Homo sapiens: one gene and its partners. The protein of the gene in region 7 interacts with the protein of the main gene of each other region in a pairwise test. Each region holds a gene or a part of one and is shown on either strand. Other genes may lie near its edges. The genes, in order: CEP63, USP25, SMAD5, SRRM4, GTPBP2, OBI1 and SNRNP70.

What was found.
Region 1: the proteins of SNRNP70 (region 7) and CEP63 interact in binary tests that used the Homo sapiens proteins (3 or more experiments, as listed by UniProt).
Region 2: the proteins of SNRNP70 (region 7) and USP25 interact in a two-hybrid assay, tested with the Homo sapiens proteins (one large-scale study listed by BioGRID and IntAct).
Region 3: the proteins of SNRNP70 (region 7) and SMAD5 interact in a two-hybrid assay, tested with the Homo sapiens proteins (one large-scale study listed by BioGRID and IntAct).
Region 4: the proteins of SNRNP70 (region 7) and SRRM4 interact in binary tests that used the Homo sapiens proteins (3 or more experiments, as listed by UniProt).
Region 5: the proteins of SNRNP70 (region 7) and GTPBP2 interact in binary tests that used the Homo sapiens proteins (3 or more experiments, as listed by UniProt).
Region 6: the proteins of SNRNP70 (region 7) and OBI1 interact in a two-hybrid assay, tested with the Homo sapiens proteins (one large-scale study listed by IntAct).

The regions. Positions count from the first base shown.
Region 1 is NC_000003.12:134,531,057-134,534,556, forward strand, and holds part of CEP63 (centrosomal protein of 63 kDa), read left to right. Parts: intron 1-788; coding exon 789-884; intron 885-1,703; exon of another isoform or gene 1,704-1,721; coding exon 1,722-1,844; intron 1,845-3,500. UniProt on the Homo sapiens protein: Required for normal spindle assembly.
Region 2 is NC_000021.9:15,834,482-15,837,981, forward strand, and holds part of USP25 (ubiquitin carboxyl-terminal hydrolase 25), read left to right. Parts: intron 1-3,500. UniProt on the Homo sapiens protein: Deubiquitinating enzyme that hydrolyzes ubiquitin moieties conjugated to substrates and thus, functions in various biological processes including inflammation and immune response.
Region 3 is NC_000005.10:136,153,345-136,156,844, reverse strand, and holds part of SMAD5 (mothers against decapentaplegic homolog 5), read right to left. Parts: intron 3,254-3,500; 5' UTR 3,085-3,253; coding exon 2,682-3,084; intron 1-2,681. UniProt on the Homo sapiens protein: Transcriptional regulator that plays a role in various cellular processes including embryonic development, cell differentiation, angiogenesis and tissue homeostasis.
Region 4 is NC_000012.12:118,988,041-118,991,540, forward strand, and holds part of SRRM4 (serine/arginine repetitive matrix protein 4), read left to right. Parts: intron 1-3,500. UniProt on the Homo sapiens protein: Splicing factor specifically required for neural cell differentiation.
Region 5 is NC_000006.12:43,623,130-43,626,264, forward strand, and holds part of GTPBP2 (GTP-binding protein 2), read right to left. Parts: coding exon 3,097-3,135; intron 2,736-3,096; coding exon 2,627-2,735; intron 2,432-2,626; coding exon 2,234-2,431; intron 1,934-2,233; coding exon 1,759-1,933; intron 1,601-1,758; coding exon 1,381-1,600; intron 940-1,380; coding exon 804-939; intron 667-803; coding exon 608-666; intron 1-607.
Region 6 is NC_000013.11:78,617,656-78,621,155, reverse strand, and holds part of OBI1 (ORC ubiquitin ligase 1), read left to right. Parts: intron 1-3,500. UniProt on the Homo sapiens protein: E3 ubiquitin ligase essential for DNA replication origin activation during S phase.
Region 7 is NC_000019.10:49,088,451-49,091,950, reverse strand, and holds part of SNRNP70 (U1 small nuclear ribonucleoprotein 70 kDa), read right to left. Parts: intron 1,661-3,500; coding exon 1,598-1,660; intron 1,486-1,597; coding exon 1,431-1,485; intron 1-1,430. UniProt on the Homo sapiens protein: Component of the spliceosomal U1 snRNP, which is essential for recognition of the pre-mRNA 5' splice-site and the subsequent assembly of the spliceosome. SNRNP70 binds to the loop I region of U1-snRNA.

The DNA of each region.
Region 1 (3,500 bases), on a different chromosome or scaffold from region 7:
ATGGTTGGTGGAACTCGTTTCTCTGGAGTTGGGTGAATGGTAAAGCAGGCACAAACCTCCTTTTGTTTTCCTGTCTGACGTTACTATTCTGTACTTTATTGTAGAGAAATTATTCCTAAGGTCTTCTAGATTTTTTATGAAGTATTGTTGGTTTCCAGGACTCTCAACACTTTATATTTCTTATTTTCATGAGTTTTTTTGATGAAAAGGGTTGAGTAGGATAATCAGACAGAGAGACACAGTTTCGGCCGGGCGCGATGGCTCACGCCTGTAATCCCAGCACCTTGGGAGGCTGAGACAGGTGGATCACGAGGTCAGGAGTTCAAGACCAGCCTGGCCAAGATGGGGAAACCCTGTCTCTACTAAAAATATAAAAATTCGCCAGGTGTGGTGGCATGCGCCTGTAATCCCAGCTACTTGGGAGACCGAGGCAGACAATTGTTTAAACTTGGGAGGCAGAGGTTGCAGTGAGCCAAGATTGCACCACTGCACTCCAGCCTGGGCGAGAGTGAGACTCCCATCTCAAAAAGAAAAAAAGAAAAAGAGAGAGAGTCTTCATCTAAACCTAGAAATTCTAAAAACTAGCTGTTTGTTCACTATTTTTTGGCAGTGTAAAGAATTCTTAAATAACTAGGTATTTGACTTCCTAAGAAGTGGGGTATCACCATATATATGCATTTGAGAACTTGAATTTACAAATAAATACAGAGATTATTTTCTATTTTTATATCTCAGGGATGTTATTTCAATGCTAATAGTGAAAAATACTACCACCTTTCTGCTTTTAGGTTGGAATGTTGCATCAGCAGGTAGAAGAACATGAAAAAATCAAGCAAGAGATGACCATGGAATATAAGCAGGAGTTGAAGAAACTACATGAAGAAGTGAGATTTTAGTTTTGTTAAATGTTGTGTGTGTAGTTCTCTCTCTTTCACCCTTGAGAACTTTGTTAATGAAAGCCAGTTTCTACTTTGTAAAGTGGGAAATACATACTCCATCAAAGATACAGGAGTGGGAATCCATTTCTCTGTTCTTTAATCCAGGTAAAGAGGTTTGCCTAACTGTAGGTTTGATACTACCTAGAAGAGATGCTAAAATATGTTTCTTGGTTGAGTACCTGAAAGAAATAGAGCTGTTTTTATGTAATACTGTGAAATACTTGATACCAAAAATTACATTTAATATTTTAATTTTTATCAGTTACTAGATTATAAATAATGGAGGATCCAAAGATTTAAGAAACATTTTGGGATAAATAAGACAAGTAAGAAAATTCTGTCCATTAACTCAATTTTATTCTTCAGATTTGGAAAAAACTGCTTTTATTCTGATTTAATTGCAAAGTACTCTTCTCCTGCATCCTGAATATCAGTGCCCTGCAAGAGCATGGCTTGAGAATCACAGACCTAGAGGAAAGAAAAAGAGTTTTTATTTGCTGCTTTATTGTGGGGCTGGGTGGTAGGGTCTTTAAGTGCAGGGCTATTGTAATACAAAACTTTTGTTTAAAATTTTTTTTAAAATTTTTTCTTTGAATATATTTCTTTAGTAGTGTTTGTTTTACATATTTAATTTTTAGTTTCCTTTTGTGTTTTAGTTTGGAAATCTAACATGTTCTCAGTAGTACTGGTTAGCACTGCTCTTGTTTTCATAATACCAATTTGTCTCACCACTACTTCTTACAAATTCTTAAACTTTAAATATAGAAATAACTGTTTCTACAGTTATGCATACTGAAGAGAAGCTATGAAAAGCTTCAGAAAAAGCAAATGAGGGAATTCAGAGGAAATACCAAAAATCACAGGGAAGATCGGTCTGAAATTGAGAGGTTAACTGCAAAAATAGAGGTATGTTCATAGTAATAATTTGTTCATAGTGATTGTCAGCCTTCACGTAGGAAAATGCGGTTTCTAATGGCACTATTTTCTGGAACCAATTTTCTACTATCTTAAGGACTGCCACTAAGCTATTTCAGAGGTGAGAGGGTGATCCACCATACATCCTATCATCATCTAGTTCCCTGGGTTAACGGGGTTACTGGCCATCAGTAATTCTCAACAGGGCAGTACCACCCTTAGGGAGCATTTGCAAATGTACGGAGACATATTTTTTTGGTTGTCAAAATGACTGAGCTTAATAAAACTGGCATTTAGGGGACAGGGACCAGGGATACTAAACATGCCTAAGAGTGTTCCACACAGGAAGGATTATTGTACCTCAAATGCCAGTAACTCTCCAATTGGGAAACATGACCACTAGTTATAGGCAGTCCTCTATGGACATTGTTCTTGTCTTATATATCATTGTATCTCAAGCACCTAATAAAGTGGGGGCTTAGTAAATGTGGAAAGTACATGGCACTTTTCGTACAAAGTAATCTCTGTATCAGATTATTCTCAATTCCCATTTAGATGTAGTAAGGCATTCACTTCCTTCTCTGCTGACTTTGTTTTTATTAAGACTGAATAACTCCATGATTATTGTATATATTGAGAACTTAAGGGGAGCTGGTGAGCTAATAGTACCAAGAGTAGATGAAGGAAGAGCACAAGGCTGTCATTCTCTTCGTCTGTCCTTGCCATTAGTTCTTCACTGGACATAAGAATTCCCAGGGTGCTTTTAGGCTCTCAGAAATGCTGATCCAGCAGTATGGCATAGGACCTAGGGATCTGCATTGTATCCAGCTCCCCTAGCTTATTCTGATTTGAGAAACATTGTTCAACATCTTTGTGTGATCACTTACAAGTTTGTACTCTGGGTGACCTGTCACCCACAAATGCCAGTATATTATTATTACTTAAAATTATAATTTCTGTGTTTAATATTCCTTTATATCTCAATATTTTTTTACATTTGAAGAGCTTAGAATCAGAAGACTGCAGCTACTGCTTCCCTTCCACCCTTTTCGGCAATACCTTTTCCCCCCAAACCCTATATCCTTCTTGCTTCTCATTGCCACTTCCTGACTATTCTCTTTTCTTTCTACCTCAAAAACCCCATCTTTGATTTTCATGTTACCAGCCTATACTGCCAGCCAATGAACATAACAACCAAAATAGTCATCGTCTGACCTCTGGGTTATTTCCTTGGCTCATTGATTTCAGCACCCAGCTCACTGTCAATTCTCTCTGACATTACTCTTATCATAACTTTGAGGATCTTAGGATCTGGAGAGATGATGCTTATAATACTCTGACCTTACAGTTTCTTGGCTTTCTTTCCTCCATAGATAGTTTGATTATCTTTGTGTCTCATCTACTTATTCCCACTGCCATTCCTTAGCTCTTGTCATTACCAATATATGCCACCCCTCTAGAATCTCATTTTCAAGCATTCAATTATCAGACTACCAATCCCTATCTTTTCAGCTAACTCTCTCTAGTCCTTTGACTCTCAGTAATCATTAACCATCCCTTAAAATGATTAAATTCTGCCACCTTTTTACTGCTCCATTATCTACTTGGTGTTCTCACTTATCGGTCCTTAGCCAGCTTTTAAATTCT
Region 2 (3,500 bases), on a different chromosome or scaffold from region 7:
GTTCCAGCTTTTGTTTGTTTAATTTCATCTTTCGCAGACAGAGGTTTCCTTGCAGCATTACCTGGTTGGGCTTCAGCATTATCATTTGAACTTTAGAAGGAATTATTACTTCAATAGAAGATTGTTTTACAGTGCTACAATGTAGTATTGTGACTGTCGCAGGCATGCACAAATCTGTCCAGATACTTAACTTATTTTCATGTAGATCAAATAATTGTCGTTGATTTTGATCCTGAGAGGCAGATAATTCAGCATTTTTTAAAAAGATAATGGTATCACAGCAACATTTGGATACTACAGTGCTATGGAGAATACCACCATTATAGTGGCTGGTGAACTCTACCATTATGTAGGGCTGCACTTTTCCCCCACGTGTACAAGGCTACCGCGTAGAGCAGGTGAAGCTATGTGGGTCCACAACAATGTAGTTTTTAGTAGATGTCAAGAGGTATCTAAGCTCAAATCACAGTGTAGTAACTATATTATAGTTCCTTTCATTTTTAAAACATTTCTGTCCCTTTGTGATTTCATGCTTTGCATTCTGTACATATTCTTTCCAAATCACTCCTCAGAACCTGCCCCAAGATGGAGCTACTGTGTTATTGTTCCCTTAACATTTACTTATTCCATTCACATGTGACTATTCTTGTTATTAGTGGGAGGAAGGGGCTGCATAGTGTACTATAAGCAGTTGTGGTACCTAAGCTCCCAGACACAGGTGAATCCTCCATTCATTGGTTAAGCTCCAGTTTTATTCTTGGCTCACCTATATTTTGTGATACCAAAATATTAAGTTCTATATATCCTCCTCCTCTTCATCCTGTCTGTTTCTCATCTCTCCAAATTTTCAGAGTTAACATATTTTATTTCTGCTTAGTCAAACGAATACATATTTCCAACTAATATTCCTATCTATTAAGGACTAGCCTTGCCCCATCCTCATTTTACATTTGTCATCTTTTTTCTTTCTCTGTGAAAAGACCATGTGTGCATAACTGCATCCATTTTCATGATCAATACATCTGACCATACACTTTACATGGTGTTTTGTAATTTTTAAAAAATGCAGTACTAGGTATTGGACATATATTTTCATGTCTGTTTTTACCATGCAAAATAATCTTAGAATGTTGATATATTTCTGGGAGGAACCAGAATAAAAGATGAAGAGATGGAAATGGTCAATTCCTATTCCTAGATAACTTTTATAGTTACCTTTCAGCGTGGGTTATTTAGAAAGCAGTGGTAATACTACTTCTGTAGGAAACATTGTATCCTCCATAGACTTGACGGAAATATGCACTTGGTTTGAATTAGTAGAAGTAGAACATGCCAAGTCCATAAATTTACAGAGTGAGATTGTTGTTTAAAAGATTGGTTTCTATTACTGTTATCTTTGAGATTATATTAAGAAATTTGTTCTCTGTTGCAGGATAGTTTCACATATCATAATTGAATAAGACTAATGTTTCATTAGAACCATTTATTCCCTATTATTAATAGGGAAATTTTATTTTAATGTCCATGCCATCCTCTTCTGATTCTTCTCATGGTTTTCAAAGTAAGTAATTTAATTTGGTATAATACTTCCAGGATCTCAAAGCAAATCTGTATTTTAATCTCTCAGGTGTTCACTAGTATTACCAGTGACTAGTGGAAATAATAAAAGGAAATCTTGTTCATAAAATCCAACAGAATGATTTTTTTCCTCCCTGCAAAATCTTCTCGTTAAAGCTGAAACATAAGACCTCATAAAATTCAATTTCTACTGAGTGATATTCCAATTAAGAGTACTAATTCATATTATATTAATCAAATTAGTATTTGTTCCTCTTCTGCTAAAATGTGATCGAGAAATTCATGCGTATCAGTTCACCAGCACCATTCGTTCCCTACTGAGATAATAAATGATGGGAAAGTATTTTTTGGTTCATTTCATGCTGCTTCCCTAGATCTGCTTACTGCAAAGGCAAACTTACCTGAATACTTTTGTTGAGATTTTCAGCCAGCCATTCTTTGCTGTCAGTGTGGGGATCAGAATGAGTAGGGGAGCAAACTTACCTGAATACTGTTGTTGAGATTTTCAGCCAGCCATTCTTTGCTGTCAGTGTGGGGATCAGAATGAGTAGGGGAGCAAACTTACCTGAATACTGTTGTTGAGATTTTCAGCCAGCCATTCTTTGCTGTCAGTGTGGGGATCAGAATGAGTAGGGGAGCAAACTTACCTGAATACTGTTGTTGAGATTTTCAGCCAGCCATTCTTTGCTGTCAGTGTGTGGATCAGAGTGAGTAGGGGAGCAAACTTACCTGAATACTGTTGTTGAGATTTTCAGCCAGCCATCCTTTGCTGTCAGTGTGTGGATCAGAATGAGTAGGGGAGCAAACTTACCTGAATACTGTTGTTGAGATTTTCAGCCAGCCATCCTTTGCTGTCAGTGTAGGGAACAGAGTGAGTAGGGGAGCAAACTTACCTGAATACTGTTGTTGAGATTTTCAGCCAGCCATCCTTTGCTGTCAGTGTGTGGATCAGAGTGAGTAGGGGAGCAAACTTACCTGAATACTGTTGTTGAGATTTTCAGCCAGCCATCCTTTGCTGTCAGTGTGTGGATCAGAGTGAGTAGGGGAGCAAACTTACCTGCATACTGTTGTTGAGATTTTCAGCCAGCCATCCTTTGCTGTCAGTGTGTGGATCAGAGTGAGTAGGGGAGCAAACTTACCTGAATACTGTTGTTGAGATTTTCAGCCAGCCATCCTTTGCTGTCAGTGTGTGGATCAGAGTGAGTAGGGGAGCAAACTTACCTGAATACTGTTGTTGAGATTTTCAGCCAGCCATCCTTTGCTGTCAGTGTGTGGATCAGAGTGAGTAGGGGAGCAAACTTACCTGAATACTGTTGTTGAGATTTTCAGCCAGCCATCCTTTGCTGTCAGTGTGGGGATCAGAGTGAGTAGGGTTTTTTTTTCTGAGTGTGAACAGCACACCCTACCTAAGGCCACTTAAGAGACACTGGAGTCAGAATCTCTGGAGAAAGGATCTGATACAGTGCTATCTTAAAGAGATCTTCAGATAATTCTGAGGTTAAGCAGCATGGCTCTAGGCTGTATTTATAAAACAGAAATTATGCTGGAGAGAAGAGCGTTGTCCGAGTTACTATTTTACTTATATTACTCTTGTCTTATCCAAGAAGTATCTGAAGTCCTTACAATATAGCACACCCAGATTTCTTTAAAAAATAAGGAAACACTAGTGAAGATTGGAATGAAGTGTATTGCGTAAGGTTTTATAAATTTCTCTAGAGGAAGCAGGCAGAGTTGGCTCTGGAACTTCTCTACACTGTCTACAAGTTAAAAATAAGCTGATGTTCCAGGAGAGTACGGTTGGATCCTGAGAGTAAGACCTGGTAGAATAAACAGTATCGTCAGTGTTCTCAGATTCCTTGAAAGCAGGAACTAGGTGATATTCTTTTTTTTTTTTCTGAGACAGTTTCACTTTGTTGCCCAGG
Region 3 (3,500 bases), on a different chromosome or scaffold from region 7:
AAATTTTCCGTTATTTAAAAGTATCAGAGCTATGCCCCAGTCTTTTCTATAGAATGAATCATAGCTGAGAAAAATGTATACAAAAAATAAGACATTTCTATTGGCTGGCTGACTACTAGTCACACTTTGGCTATAGGGGAATACATAAAATTCCTAGACTCCCTCCTAGCAAATAGCAAGCTTGGGAGTTTTTCAGCCTATACTTCTCTATTAAATCCTTTTATCTTCCTTTCTTCATCAGTTCCTTCAGCTATCAGCTTTCCTTGGACTCAGTAAGAAACTGAGAATCATATCATACCAACTGTCTAAAGACACTCTAAAGCTCTTAAGTTGAACTTTCACAGACAGCATAATCACTGCTATCTGCTATCCTTTCTACTAGTCTCCACATCCAATGTTATTTTCAGTCTTTTTACCACACATCTCCACGTGAAACCCAGATAGACTCTAAGGTAACCACTGTGATTCCCACCTCCAGGTATTCAAACCATTGGGTAATTCTCCCTGCTTGAGTATGAGTATGACCTATCACTTCCTTCTAACCAACAGAATATGGCAAAGGTGACAGCGTATGTATGATTACATTCCACAAGAATATAATGTCCTTCTTACCAGAAGACCCTCTCTTCCTTACTGGCTTTGAAGAAGCTGTCATGAATGTGAACTACCTATAAAGAAGGCTATGTGAAAGCAACTAAATCTGTCAACAATCACATGGGCTTGGAAGCAGATCCTTCCCTAATTGAGCTTCTGATAAGACCTTGGCCCTAACCAACACCTTGATTACAGCGCCTTGCAAAGGACCCAGCTAAATGTGACTGGACTCCTCACCCAAAGAAACTGTGAGGTAATAAACATGCATTGTGCTAAGCCACTAAGTTTGTGGCAATCTGTCATGCAGCAATAGATGACTAATGCACTCAGCTAGCAGCTCAGCTTATACCATTCATTATAAAAAAAATTTACTGAGCATCACCTACCAAGTGCCAGACAACAATATACTATTCTAAGCACTAAGGATAGAGTAATGAATGAAATAGAGGAAGACTCTGCTCATGTCAGTCAATAAACAAAATAAATATCTAATATAGAGTCAATTAGTGATGCGGATATTTGAGCAAGGACTGAATGGAATGAGAAAATGTGCCATGGAAAGATCCTGGGGGAGAATAAGTAGACAGCAAGAGTTAAAGCCTGGAAACAGGAGTATGGCAAGTCCAAGGAACAGAGAACTCTGAGGATAGGTCATACAGAGTCTTACAGAAATCTCTTTAAGTGTGACAGCCTTGAAAGTGTTTTCAGTAGGAACTGACATGATTTAGTATGTTTTTAAAAAATCATTCTGGCTGTTGTGTGGAAAACACAATGGGTTAAGGGGAAGAAGAGACGCAGAAAGACCAATTAGGACACTACTTAAGGTGAGTGATGATGATGATGTACTGTACTAAAGTAGTGATGTCACAAATGATGAGAGGTGACATATTTATTAAGACATATTTTGAAGGTGCAGCAAACAGCATTTGCTCATATTTTAAATATAGGATTTAAGTAAGAAGAATAAAAGATGACCTTGCAGTTTAGGGCATTAGCAATTACATGAATGCTGTTGCCATTCACTTCAATAGGGGAAACCAGAGAAAAAAAACTGCGCTTAGACATATTACATTTGGTATGTTTAATAAATAAATATTCAAGTGGAAATGTCAAGTAGGCAACTGGATACACAAATCTAAAACTCAAGGGAGAAGTTGACTTGAGTTCAAAATGTGAGCATCAGCTTATAGACAATCTTAAGACATGTGACAGCATGAAAGCACATAAAGAAATAATATAAATGGAGAAAAGGTCCATGGACTGACTCCTGTGAAAACAGGAGAATACGCCAGCAAAGAGGGGCAAGAACAGTCAGTGAGGTAGGAGAACCAGGATAGCATACTGTCTTAGGGGCCAAACACAGAAAAAGTTTTGAGTAGGATGGAAGGAGATCAACTGTATCAAATGCAGTTGAGCGGACAGTAAGATAAGACTCAAAAATGACCCCTTGACCTATAAAAAGGCAGTCACTAGTGATCTCGACAAGTTAAATGGTAGGAAAGAAAGACTAACTAGAGAAGTCACAAGAAAAAAATGAAACATAAAGATAATAAAAATGGAGAATCCTCTAAAAGGACCAGTGGAAACAGTGCAGTGATTGGGGTTGGGTTATGTGAATGAAGTGAAAAGCAGAATTTTTTTTTAAGTTTTATTTTAGGATGGGTAGTATCATGGCATGCTTGTATGCTATCAGAAATACTCTGGTAGAAAGGGAAAATATAATGCTGGAGAGAAGGATGATAACTGTAGGAACAAAGTTCTTCATTTGACAAAAAGGAATGGGATATAGTACACACTTGGAGCTTAGGCTTTAAATAAAACAGAGACAGGTCATCCACAGGAAAAGGCAGAGTAGATATATGGGTGCTTACAGTGAATAATGAATTAGAGTAAGCCACCTGAGAATTGTATCACCTACATATAAAAAGCTAAACTCAAAATCCAATAGCCCTTCCAAGATTAGAATATTTAAGATGGAAACACAAAGCTAATACAACCTTTTCATTACTAAATCTAGTTACATGCATATCAGGAAGAGAGGTTTTTTGTTTTTGTTTTTCCAAATTCTTCTCAGGAATAAGACCTACCTGGACTCTCCACTCTCTTATAGTGGTATGGGTTGATACAAACTTCTTTTTGCTTAGATCCAAAAGGAAATTCACAAATATCCAACGGCTTTAGCTCATGATGACTCTGCAAATCCGGCCAGCGCCAAACACGACAATATATAACATGGGGTAAGCCTTTTCTGTGAGAAACCTGCAGGCGTCCATCTAAAGATCTGGGAATAGTGACACATTTACTCGGCTGTCCTGGACTGCTCAAGGCTTTCTCCAGTTCCTCCATGGCACCCTTTTTCTTTTTTAGTTTCTTCACCAAAGCATCAACTGCCTTTTCTGCCCATTTCTCCTCCTCATCACCTTGTTTCCAGCCCAACAATCGCTTTACTGCTGGACTAGTAAAAGAAAACAAGCTGGCCATTGACGTCATTTGACACAAATCTTCGGAGACCTTCCTGTAACTCAAAGTCAGTGGCTACCGAAAGAACAGATCACAGGTGAAACGTCATACACAGGTCCTAAGCAGAAGTTCCAATTAAAAAGGGAGGAGTAACATTTATCTTCACAAGTGCCATATGCTTCTTTCATTGGGTCAAGTCCTGAAAGAGAAAGGGGGAAAGGATCCTAGTTTAAATCAATTCAATATATACAAATTTAAATTAATATAATCGAAAGGCATATTTTATTAAATAAGAACAGAAAAGCATTACAAAGTAAACAAAAAATTGATAAATTTTCTCCAAAAGTTCTGTGACCACTCGATTCCTTCCCCATAATATGAACAAGTAAGACACTGGCAATGTCAAATGATAACCAGAGGCAAAACCAGGTTGCTCTACCTCCTAT
Region 4 (3,500 bases), on a different chromosome or scaffold from region 7:
GTATTTTTCTTCTAGCTATTTGAAACTGTAAAACATATTATTGTCTTAAGCATGATAATGTAGGGAGAAATAGAGACAGAGGAATGTAAAAAAAAAACAGCGAAGGGAGAGACCCTTAATGAAGCATGGAGTCCCTTGCTTATAGTCACACAGTTATTTTTAGTTATCCGATCTGCAAAATGGGGATGATTCTTCTATTTCATCAACGTTATCTACAAATACAAGGAATGATCAGAGAAAATCAGACCTTTGCCCCCAGCAGGGTCTCAAATACCATTTCTTTTAATAGGAGAGAAAGCAGGCTAAACTCTCTGAGGGGAACATTAACTGTGGGGGAATAGTCAACGCTAGTGGAGGGGAGCCGTGGAAGGGAGCTGCTCATATAATATACATTTTCCAGCTCAAGGATGCAGTCTCTGGCGTGGGCTATTAGGCTTCTTGTCCTTCATGGACCAGCTCTAGCTAATAGGAAATCTAGTCTGCATTCCATGAACAACCACCAGTGATGGGGGGATTATAGCGAGCCTGCAAATGTGGAAGATAAAATTAATCACAGGGGAATTAATACACAAAGTGGAAGAAGCTGCACGTTGGCTAAAAAAAAATTAGGTTGTACTTTCATTCATTTATTCAGTCATTCAACATTTTTATTGAACCACTACTCAACGTAACAGTGAATGAACACAGGAACTCCCTGTTCCCGTGGAGGAGAAAGACAATAAATGAAGAACCAAATAAATAAATGAGAGCTGGTGGTAATGCATTCTGTAAAGAACAATAAAGCCAAGGAAAGGAATAGAGGGTGAGGGAATGAGCTGCTTTGTTGGACAGCATGATCCCTGAGTGAAGGGAGAGGTGAGCTGTGAGGATAAGTGAGAGAAAAGTGTTTGAGGCAGAGGGAACAGCAAGTGCAAAGGCCCTGAGGTAGAAGGATGCTTGGTGTATTTGAGAAATAGCAAGGAGGTCAGTGTGGCTAGAGCAGAGTGAGTGAATGGGAGAGTGACAGAAGATGATTCCCAGGATGCAGGCAGAAAACAGATCAAGTGGGGCCTTGTAAGCCAGTTCAGGAAATTCCTAGGTCCTGGGCTGGGGGCAGGAGGTGGTCCCAGGAGGGTTCTTGCCTTCTCAAGCAGAGTTCCAGATCTGATCTGCTTCTGTTTGACTCCTCTTTCCTGACTCTGATGCAGCCAGTGATGACTTTGAACAGCAATATCAGAAGATTGGCTGGGTCCCTCCATGTGTTATGGACAAGCATGAAATTTACAGTCCCTTTGATTGTGAACAATCACATCAGGAAACTTTAAAGATGCTGTTTAGACTTCCAAATAGCAGTGATAGATTTTGTTCCCACGGTGCAAGGGTTTGGTCTCTCATATTCATGCATGCAAACCTAGACTATCCCTTGCACCCAGTAGCCCCCTCCACTGCACACTCTTGAAGCTACAGTCTGCTCTTTCTGTCTCTCTCCCTCTGTGTATCTCTCCCGGCACCTGTCCCCCCACACCTTCCAGCCCCCCACTCCATTTGAAATTTTGCTGAGGGAGCTCCCATATGCTACAGCCTCTGTGCGGAGCTCTGTGAAATAGAACACTGAATTAAGATGTCATAGAGACAAAGCCAAACCAAATACAGGAACAATGCCGAACCCTAAAACAGTCATTAAGTAATTCATGTCTACGTGTGTCTGTTCAAAACAAATATTAAGATCCTCTGGACGCAAATCTTTCTCATCCGGAGAATCCTCTGGTTGCTGGATTCCCAAAGCTTAGATGCCGCTGTCGGACAGCTTTGCTGAGTACAAATACCAACAGATCACTGTTCTCTGGCTTCGTTAAAAGTTAAGCTTAGGCAACTGAGCAGGAATTTAGAAGACAGTTGCCACTTCTGCAGAAAGAGAGGTGCCATTTGGGCCTGAAGCGTGCATCTTCATGGTGTGTGTGCACGCTCACTTGTGGTGGGAATGTGTGTGCTAAGAGCCTTGTGTTACTATGTGCCTTGCCCTGTGCTGAACACATTTCATCTCTTATCCAGTTCTGTACTTATAATAATTCCAGAAGAGAGGTGTCTTCAAGACCCTATTTTACAGATGAGAAAACAGAGGCTCTGAGAATAGAAATGATCTGCTCACAGACACATGGCTGGTAAGAGTCAGAATTGGAATGAGAACCCAGAGCTCTTAACCAACATGTTTATAGGATAAGACACTTTGCAGAGGAGGAAAAAATGGTATCACAGAGGGGAGGTAAGCCCTGGGAATCCAGCAACCAGGGGAGTCTCTAGATGAGAAACCTTTGCGTCCGGAGGTTCTTACTATTTGTTTTGAACAGACACACGTAGATGTGAATTGCTTAATGACTGTTTCAGGGTTCGGCATTGTCCTATTTGGTTCGGCTTTGTCTCTATGTCATCTTAATTCAGTGTGCCCATGATCACACGGTGTGTAAGTGATGAAAGCAGGAGATGAATTCAGGTCTGTCTGATTGCTAGTATATTCTTCTCTCCTGGCTGGACTTCCTGTCATTCTGGTTTGGGTTTTAAGGTTGGGGGTGTTTTTGTTTTGTTTTGCTCATCTTGTTTTATGTTCAATCAGTTTAGTAACTGCCATTGTTATAATCCCATCTCATACCACTTGCAGCAATACTGCTTTCCTCTTTCCTTGCCCCTCTTATCCATTATCCACATAGACCCAGAAGAACCTCTTTGAAAAGCACATCAGACCATGTAAGCCCTCTCTCCCTCCATCTAAAGCCCTCTATCACTTTCTCTTGTTTGTGTTTTTTTGGTTTGTTTTTGTTTTGAGATGGAGTCTCGCTCTGTCACCCAGGCTGGAGTGCAGTGGTGCGAACTCAGCTCACTGCAACCTCTGCCTCCCAGGCTCAAGGAATTCTCCTGCCTAAGCCTCCCAAGTACCCACCCCGCACCCAGCTAATTTTTGTATTTTTTTAGTAGAGACAGGGTTTCACCATTTTGGCCAGGCTGGTCTTGAACTCCTGACCTCAGGTGATCCACCCTCCTCGGCCTTCCAAAGTACTGGGATTACAGGTGTGAGCCACCATGCCTGGACCCATGTTTTTTTAAGTATACAGAGCCAGCTCCCTGCCATGGCCTCTAGCCTCTTCATGGTCCACTTCCTGCCCACCTCCCTGAGACCATTTCTAAAACACCACCTCTCACTTCCTCTGTTTAGTTGCATCTTATTCCTTTTAGTTACTCACATTTTCCAGGCTCCTTCCTGCCATGGAGCCTTTGCACATGCTGCTAGGAAAGCTCTTCCTCTCCCCTGGTGCCTGATTTATACCTACTCCACTTTCCAGAGCTCAGAGGAAATGCTGTTTCCTCGGGGATCCTTCCAGAATGCTGCAGACTAAGTCATACCCCTCATTACAGACATTACTTTCTTATCACTGTTTTCAACACATTTGTAATTATATATGGATTTGGGCGATCATTGGCTAAAGCATACCTCTCCTAACGGTTGAGGCCTCATGAGGAGAGGGACT
Region 5 (3,135 bases), on a different chromosome or scaffold from region 7:
CCTGTAATCCTAGCACTTGGGGAGGCTGAGGCAGGTGGATCACTTGAGGTCAGGAATTCAAGACCAGCCTGGCCAATATGGTGACGACCCCATCTCTACTAAAAATACAAAAATTAGCCGGGCATGGTGGTAGGCGCCTGTAATTCCAGCTACTCAAGGCTGAGGCAGGAGAATTGCTGGAACCCAGGAGGCAGAGGTTGCAGTGAGCCAAGATCGCTCCACTGCAATCCAGCCTGGGCAACAGAGCGAGACTCTGTCTCAAAAAAAAGAAAGAAAGAAAGAAAGAAGAGTCTTAAGTGACGTCTCTCATTTCCCTGTGTGAGATGAAGTCAGTTGAATACACTCTAGTTTTCTTCCTGGAGCTCAAGACCCACACTTCTCTCTCAGGGGCCTGGAGATTCCCCAATAGGCAGCAATACTGTTTCTTCCCTCCAAAGCCAACAGACTACCGTTCTCCAGCTCTTCTGATAGTGAAAGCCTAATCTGCAAATAAGCATGTCCTTTAAATGGGTTCCGTTCAATTCCAGGGTCTCCTCCTTTGGGCCAGGATGTCTTTGAGTATATAGGTGAGGGCTGAGTGGGGAGGGTAGCAAGCAAGACAATTTACCTGGAAAGTGTTCCTCCAACAACAGTCCCCACCTCTGGTACTGTGTAGATTTCATCCACCTGAAGCCAAAGAAAACGCTATCAATGGCCTGCCAAGTAGGGCTGGTGGGTCCAAAATCTCTAAACAGACTCTGGGTTTGGTCTGAAGCAGCCCCTCCCTGTTTCCCAGCCTATTAGATGTTTGGGCAGTCAACTACCTGGAACTCCGTCAGCTGCTGCATGAGTTCCTCCTGCTCTTTGCTGTTGGTGAGTGGCGGCAGAATATTCAGAAAGACTTTGAGGAGGTCCAGACTCTCTCCAGACACACTGGACAATGTGAAGATGGGGGTGACACTGTAGAGGGAGGCATGGAATGGACAGATGAAGACAGTCCAAACAGGAGGCAGAGGCCAGAGCCCCATACATGGAAAGGTGAGCTTTGTTCTGGCTGGGGGCCCCTCTCTCCTGTCTGCAAATGGCTCAGGAACTCTGGGCCTTCTTGTGAGCCAGTCGAGCAATGTCACACAAAAAGCCCATCCGAGCCCAAGGGAAACAGCAAATGCCTGGTATAGCACTTCATCGCCATGGTCCCAGGCATCAGCAGTGCTCCAGGTTGGCTCGGGAGGAGGGTCAAGCCCTTTAGCAAGATGCCCCTCCACAATCCCAAGCTGAAACACCCGCAGAACTAAGCCAGAACTGGTCTGGCCCTGGAGAAGTAGGATATCATGCTTCTGGGCCCTGGGCTCTGTGGCAGCCTTCCTAGTGGATCAGGGCTTTAGAGTAAGGTGGGCTTACTTGGGTGACTGAGCAAACTGCTGGGCAGCAGTGACGGCATCATCCTCAGAGGTGACCAGCATGGGGACCTTGTGGCAGCCAGGCTGCTTGAGGACCCGCTCCAGCTGGCGTACTGTCCTCTCCACTGTGGTCTTGGCACATAGGTCGATCTTGCTGACCACGATGAAGAAGGGCACTTTCAGGGCCAGGGCCAGCCCCAGATGTTCCCTTGTGGTGCCAGCTGCCTCATAAGGACAGCAAGCAGCAGGAGAGAAGAGTGAGAATGCAGGAGGGAGGAGAGGGAAGAAGAGGAGCATTGGTCTGTCTCCAAGATTTGAGGCCCAGGGTAGGAGAGTCAGCACCCCCCTTCAGCCCTGTCCCTGCCCTAATGCCTCGTACCAATCCCAGTGTTGGCACTGACGAGGAGCAGGGCGCAGTCGGGGCAGTATGATGTGAGGCCAAAGATGGTGGTGTGTAGGTACTTATGGTGGCCTGCCAGGTCGATGAAGGTGATCATCTTGGAGCTGCTCTCACAGATCTCTTCTGCTGTCCGTGAGTCGCTGTAATTCACCACCTGGCCCAGGGCCCAGGGCCCTCAGTGCCTCCTGCCAGCCCTTCCAACCCCTTCAGAGTTGCCAGGACCTAAACCATTCCCTGGGTGACCCTGCCTCTTAATCTTGACCCCATTTTTTATTTAATTTAGTTGATTCCCCATTGATTTCCTAAGAGGGGCAGAGCTTGTTCACAGTCCCCTCAGGGCATTCATCTATACTATTTCAAAAAGTCTCCACACTCTACCCCCATCCTATGTCCTTCACTACTACCATCCCATCCTCAGAGTCTGGCCCCATTGGGTCCCATTGATCCCATGCACCTCTCCCTTGCTGTTAAAGCCCAGGATCTCGAAGCTGATGCTGGAGGTTCGGCCAGACTGAATCTCATGCAGGTGGCGGAAAAGGTTGAGCCGAGCCCGGCCCCGCCCATTGTCCAGCTCTCCCTGGGTCAGGACTCCAAGCAGAGTTGACTTCCCAGAGTCCACATTCCCCAGGACGGCCACACGGAGGTCTAGGAACTGTGGATGAATTGCCAGAGATAAGAACTCCAATCTCTCACCCCTCTAACTGAAGACTGGGTCAAGGGCAGTGACGCTCCCTAGGGAGCAAGTGATGAACTGGAAGCCCCCAGGATCCCAGGCCAGGAGACAGCCTGCCACCACAGGGCCCTTCCACAGTGTGGACATGAGAGACAGGGATGGGTGTGTGCTCACCTGTTGGTTGTCAGGGACCTTTCGTACTAGCACCTCGGTGATCTTCCGGGGCATGTCGCTATCATAATCCACTTCTCGCTCTCGAAGAACGGTTATGTCTGCCCCAACCCTGTCACAGCAAGGCCACAGCTGCCATATCTCACCTGTCCTTCTCCTATTCCAGGCTCGCTCTGGACCTACAGACTTCCTGCACCTCCCACAGAGCTCCCAATACCTTAGTGCACTTCCTACCACCCTCCAATCTATTCCTCATTCACAGTTCCCTTTAAAACAAATATACATATCTTAATTCAAGGAGCAAAACAGCCTAGGTCCAGTGAGGAGGGGACCAAAACACTAACCCTCCCCACTTCAGCCCTTTGTCAAGAGAAGGAAAGTCCCACCTTGGCCCCTCAGGCCCTAGGTAACTGGGTATGCATGGGTCCCCCCAAGTCAGGTAAAGGAGAACTGGTGGGGAAGGGGAAGCATACTTCTCTGCCATCCGGTGCAGGGTCTTGAGCGAAGCTCGC
Region 6 (3,500 bases), on a different chromosome or scaffold from region 7:
AGGCCACACCACAAAAGCTGGTCCAGGTCCAAAGATAGCTTTCGCTTTGTTTCATTACCTCAGCTACCAAGTGAGGGAAACATATAAAGTCAAAGTTTGATGAGGCAAGTGGACTGACTTCCCCAATGTCCCCCTTGTTCCTCCTCAAGAAGGCATTTCTGAATTTTGGCAGTCTTGGCCACCCACTGGGCTTGCTGCATTTACCCATTTTGTTGGAATTGCCATTGAGAACCAGAAAGGCAAAGTGAATTGCTCAAGGATAGTAGCGTAGCACTAGAGCTTATTAGTTTTTTGGTACTCAGGTGTGGTATTCTTTTACCACATTTGTTTTCTTCAAACACGTCCTGTTTTTCTGTGTGATAGACTATGAGAAAATATGGTCTTAGGAACTTTTTGTTGTTAGAGATGCTCTTTAGTTTAGTTATACCACCTCAAAGGTCATACCAATAGGACTTCCATTTCTCTTTTACTAGGGACAGAAATGATCTTGTATCTCTTAGAGCTATTTGGACAAGGGGAACTGGCATCCTTTTCTCTCTCATCCAGAATGTATGTATCAGTTAATATTGCAAGCTGAAAAATCCTTTAAGCTTCTGTTAGATTCTGGCAGAATACAGTTCCGATATCAATTGTAGCTCCCAAACTGCTCTGCAGTGTTTTTTCTGGCACAATGAAGCCTTTGGCCATCACTGCTACTTTGAAAATCAAAGCCTTTTGGTCTCTAATGGAATGTTTATAAAAATACTCCATTTTGAAATTTACTCAAGAAAAGGAGGAAGTATGGTAAATGATATTAGAAATCCCTCCGGCTTGCCTTGGCATAGCTTCATTTAGTGTTGTATACTCCAAATATCTAGAATTAGTGTGAATACAAAAGTATTAAAACCCAAAGATAAATAAGCTCATGTCCTTCTTCTATGGAAGTATAGCATCAGATACTTATCCCTAATTGTTATTTCTCTATAATAAGGTAAATTGCCCTTTGCCAAATTTAATATAGTTATCTTGGATAAGCTGAAAATTTCCTGACACATGTCAAAAGTCTCATCTATTTGCAGTCTTACTAAGGTGAAGTTTTTTGGGGTGGAGCAGTATAGAATGTCAAGCCTGTAGCAAAAAAGGCTGTACTGTACATATGTCAGTCTCTGTTGCTTTCCTGGGTGTCAGTGAAATAAAGTAAACAGTCAAATGTAGTAAACAAAACATGTTTACTTTAGTAATACAGTGACTGTCATAATACTTAACATGTAAAAAGAAGGCCAAGGACCTTTAGCTTATCCTGTGGTGTCAACCCTGTCTCAATGTAAGGCACTAGTGTATCTTAAAGTAAGAGAATGACTTTTATTCAAGAAATACACAACAGGCAAGTGCCGTATACCAGGAATTGTTCTAGGAATCTGGCAGTGAATATAAGACAAACTACCTGCTCTCCTTGAGCTTCTATTCTAACGTGGGAGAAAGAAAGCAAATAAATTACATGAATTGATTAATTGATCAGTTGCATGGCTTTTAGTATACATTTCTGTCAGTCTGCCAACCAGCACAGGTCCCTTATTAGCATGGGAGAAGGGCCTGATCACTGAAAGTATTATAGATTTATAGAGTATTGAAAGGAAACTTAAGGAAATTGGGGGCAGTGGCCTTTTAGAAAACAGCCTAACTCCATCAGTGACTTCTGCTTGCTTGTGCCTCTCATATGTGATCTGCTACTGGCCTTTGTTACTTCTCTCTGAAATAACACAAAAATTATGTTTAGGGCTCTCATTGACTTCAACTCCAAACCATATGTTACTTCTTTTAAAAACATAATTTCTAAAAAAAAAAAATATATAGAGAGAGAGAGGCAAATACAGTATCTTAAGATGATACTATATTTGAAATTCCAAGCTAAAACCCTGGAACAAGAAGCTGGTAATATTTTGGGAAGCATTCTTTATTTTTGAGTAGTCTTTCTGTGTGTAGGCCTCTAAGTTCCCAAAGATATCCTTTGGTAGCAACTGACTTACTATGTAGTAGCATTATTTGATTTTAAGTCATTTGATTTTTTTATCTGAGGAGATACCTTTATTATAAAAAATTTTACTTGAAGAAATTTATCTTGATAAGCAAATGTAAGGCTGTCACTTTTGCTTATTGGCATTAAATAAACATACTACAGTTTTTCCATTTAAAAATGTGGGTTATTTGATTATGCCAGAGTAGTTACAATCAAGAACTAACAAACATTTGTACTTAATGTACTGAAAGGTCTTTGCCCACTTTTTAAAAGTTCTCTTGCAGAACTACAACTCTGTGAAGTACTACATTTATAAGCCAAAACATTTTTAACAAAGAAGAAAAATTCCCATCATTCATTTAACCAAATACAGTAGTAAACTTTGTCTTTAAAATGGGGAGGCTTGTTATTATAGTTGCTTTTGTTTTTGTTATACCTGTGGTTTTTGCTGTGTTTTTTTAGAAGTTGAAGGGAGCGTGCTCTCTCTGGGGGTTCAGTTAATTGCAGTGAGTAAATCAATATTCAGCAATCATGTCTTTTAAAGCCCTTTCTAATCTTGAGATTTTATGATTCTATATTTACCTTTGCCTCTGCTTTTTCCTTCAGTGATAAGAGTGCAGGGATTATGTAGGGGTTGAGATGGGGAATGAATTGGGCTAGTGGTTTAGGAGGTGATGGGCATTAAGTGGGAGTTGAAAACATGTTGTGGTTGATTCTAAGAGGGGCAATTGCTATTGGCTTCTGCTTTTTTTGTAGTTTTTTTTTTCAATACTAAATACATGTTCTTAATTGTAATTATTTTTCAAATTAGGGGAAAAAAGGAAGAAAAAGATAAACCCAAAGATAAAAATAATTTTTGAAAGTCACCTTCTCATAGCTTCCTCCAAACAGACAATCCCTTAATTCTTAGAAATGGGCCAATATATAAATCATCAAAAAGATGATTAAGAATAGGCTTTGAAAAGAATTTTGGAGGAGATAAGGTATTTTTCACGGGATTATGTTATTTATTGGCTCATAAGTTTCCTGAAAGATAGAATTTATTTTTGGTGATAAGATTGAATTTAAGGTAGATATTTTATGTCCCTTGGAGCTAGACAGTCTTTTTTATCTTTTGTGTTCCCAGCCCCAAATATACCACCTAACCTATACTAGGTACTCAAAAATTGTTTCCTGAGCTTAACACAGTACTCATTCTTGGTGGAAATAACAGCAAGATAATCCCGGTGTAAAAGGAGTAGACTTTTTGTGAATAAGGGAATTCTTTTTCAGTCACTCTCCAAAATGTTCTCTTTCAGAAAGTGTACAAAAAAATTTTTTTTTTTGCCTAGTATATTGGAATCACAAGCACTGACTTCATATTTCAAAGTTGAAAGAAATGAGATAGATGTCCCACACAGCTGTAAAATGCCAAAAATAAGTAGTGCTGACATAAATTAAAGGCCAGTGCTCTGAAAAGCCACAGAAAAGCTTCAGATCAAGGGTGGCTATAATTGAAAGGGCC
Region 7 (3,500 bases):
TTAGAAAAGGTGTTAGAAACAAACTGCATGGCAAAAAATGAGGTCATGACCGGCACAGCTGAATGTCTATGTCCCAGAGAAAACACCCAAAGGAAACCAGGTTGGTGGCGAGGGAAAACCCCTGTGGTTTGGACACTGAGTCTGAGATGCCTCTGAGGCAGGACATCAAGACAGCGTTCCGACAGCCAATGTCCAAAGAGTGCACCGCCAGATGTCTCTGTCACGCTTCTGCGTAAGCACCGTGAGGAAATCCTGCACTCCAGGATTTGGAGGAAAGGGATTCATCAAAGTTCACAGGTATAGGAGGAAAACCTGTCTTCTCACTAGAGTCATGTTCTGAGAAGTGCGTCGTTTGATGATGATGTCGATATGCCAACATGAGATGGCACTTCCACGAGCCTAGACAGCATACCTAACACTCCTGGGCTAGAGGGTGCGTCCCACTGCTCCGAGGCCAAGCGTGTTACTACACCAAATACTACAGCAATCCTAACACAATAGTAAGTATTTGTGCATCTAAACGTTATCAAAGCATAGAAAGGGTACAGTAAATAGACGGTATAATCTTTTTTTTTTTTAAGACAGATTTTTGCTTGTTGCCCAGGCTGGGTTGCAGTGAGCCGACGCGATCCCGGCTCACTGCAACCTCCGCCTTCTGGGTTCAGGAGATTCTCCTGCCTCAGTCTCCCGAGTAGCTGGGATTACAGACGCTCGCCACCACGCCCAGCTAATTTTTGTACTTTTAGTAGAGACAGGATTTCACCACGCTGGCCAGGCTGGTCTCGAACTCCTGACCTCATGATCCGCCTGCCTCGGCCTCCCAAAGTACTGGGATTACAGCGTGAGCCACAGTGCCTGGCAAAATATGATATAATCTTATAGGATCACCATCACATCCACGGTCCCCTGCTGAGTGAAACACTGCTATGCTGCCTGTGACTGTACAGTTTTCACTTTCAGAATAAAGAGCCACTGGAGGTTGACATCTGACCCTCTTATGAGTTTGGTTAATGGCAACAACACACCTGTCTTGTACTCCAATTCCTCCTCTATGTGGAGGGGATGGAACATCCTCAGCCCAAGGGTTGGGGACCTAAGGTTAGAGCCAGGACAGACCACTATCCCACAACCCACCACTTCAGCCTGTGACACCCAGCTGGGTTGTGGGAGCCCCTTAACTGTCCTCCCATGCAGGAGGAGCCCAAGGTACCAGGGGTCTCCCTTCCTGCCAACTTTTACCCTATGTTCTGCTGCTGAAAAGCCTAAACCAAAAACAGTGCTTGTGAAGTGGCAGGGGCTAAACAAATGAACTAACAACCCTGTTCCCCACAACACAGGCCTTAGGGAGACAGCAGGGTCCTGGGTATGACCTGGGAAGAATACAGAGGGTTTGGGAGAGGAGAGAGCCAAATGGTGGATGAGAGACTTACACATTTTAAGCTCTGTCTCCACTTCTTGCTGTCGCCGCTCAATCTTTTCCCGTCTCTGTCAGGAGAAAGGGGAGGTGGAGAAGTGAATGCAGATAGAAGTGCCCTAGTGTCAAGGATCATCTGGAGACAGTGGTAAAACAGGGGGTCAGGAAGCAAAAATGACATACTTTCCTCTCCATGCGCTCCTCTCGGGTTTCAGCACGAGTTGGAGGAGGGGCATCTCGAGGGTCCTGGGAACAAGAAGAGAGGTGACAGGGTGGGAAGGACTGGGGGAAATGGCAAGGGACACTCACCAAGGAAATAAACAGGTTAACCCTCCCACCCCCACCCCCTACAAAAATAAACATCCACGCACACTTCCCCTGACACAGTGGAGGGAGGGGAGTGGCACAGATCAAAGCAAGGTCTGCAGCCACGCACAGTGGCTTCCACTTGTAATCGCAGCACTTTGGGATGATGACACAGGGAGAATGCTTGAGCCTAGGGGTTTCAGACCAGCCTGGGACAACACAGTGAAACACCATCTCCACAAAAAATTTAAAAATTAGCCAGGTGTAAAGGCCGGGTGCAGTGCACACGCCTGTAATCCCAGCACTTTGGGAGGCCGAGGCAGGCGGATCATGAGGTCAGGAGATCCGAGACCATCCTGACTAACATGGTGAAACCCCACCTCTACTAAAAATACAAAAAATTAGCCGGGCGTGGTGGTGGGCGCCTGTAGTCCCAGCTACTCGGGAGGCTGAGGCAGGAGAATGGCATGAACCCAGGAGGCGGAGGTTGCAGTGAGCCGAGATCGCACCACTGCACTCCAGCCTGCACAACAGAGCAAGATTCCGTCTCAAAAAAAAAAAAAAAAAAAAAAAATCCTGTCTCAAAAACTAAGCATGGTCCATGGACCAGTACTATCTAAACTGTTGCTGGACTGTGATAAGTACAGAAACCAGGACTAAGTGTTCAGGAACTTCTACAGTAATTTCACAATTTGATGTCCACTGACTCTTAATACAAATTTGGTCTTTTATTCTGTAGGTCTTTTTTTTTTCTGAGACGAAGTTGTGGTCTGTTGCCCAGGCTGGTGTGCAATGGCGCGATCTGGGCTCACTGCAACCTCCGCTTCCCAGGTTCAAGCGATTCTAAGCCCTGCTTTCCCCCCTGTGCCCGTCTCTCTAAAAGGAACCCAGCAACTGACTAGAATCGTTCAAGCGGTTCTCCTGCCTAAGCCTCCTGAGTGAGTACCTGGGATTACAGGCACACGACAGCATGTTGGCTAGTTTTTGCATTTTTAGTAGAGACAGGGTTTCACCATGTTGGCCTGGCTGGTCTTGAACTCCTGACTGTAGATCTTTCTTTAAAAAGTAATTCTATCATATTTATCAAAAGCAAACAGATTGGAAACAGTATCTGTCCTTCACCAAAGACAGTTTGAAAAGCACTGGTACAGGTGACATCTAGCTTTATAGTATTTAGGAAACACCCTGTCTTCCATATTTAGGAAAGACATTGCTTCTCACAGCTCCAAGTATCACTCACATTGAACAAAGTGCCAGAGGATGTGATGGGAGTGGAGTGATGGCAGGGCCCTGCTTATGAGTGCCAGTGAGGATGACCAGGCCTAAAGCAACATAAGCTGACAGAACAGGGCTCCAAAGCCCACAACTGCACACCCTCTGAGGGCCAAGGCAGCTCTTAAAGGTCTCATCAACCACACATTAAATAGGAACTGGCTGGTAGGGTGCAGTGGCTCATGCCTGTAATCCCAGCACTTTGGGAGGCCAAGGCAGACAGATCACAAGGTCAGGAGTTTGAGACCATCCTGACCAACATGGTGAAACCCCGTCTTTACAAAAAATACAAAAATTAGCCAGGCATGGTAGCGCGTGCCTGTAATCCCAGCTACTCAGGAGGCTGAGGCAGGAGAATCCTTTGAACCCGGGAGGTGGAAGTTGCAGTGAGCCTAGATCACGCCACTGCACTCCAGCCTGGGCAACAGAGCGATACTCCATCTCAAAAAAAAAAAAAAAAGGTCGGGTGCGGTGGCTCACGTCTGTAATCCCAGCACTTTGGAAGGCC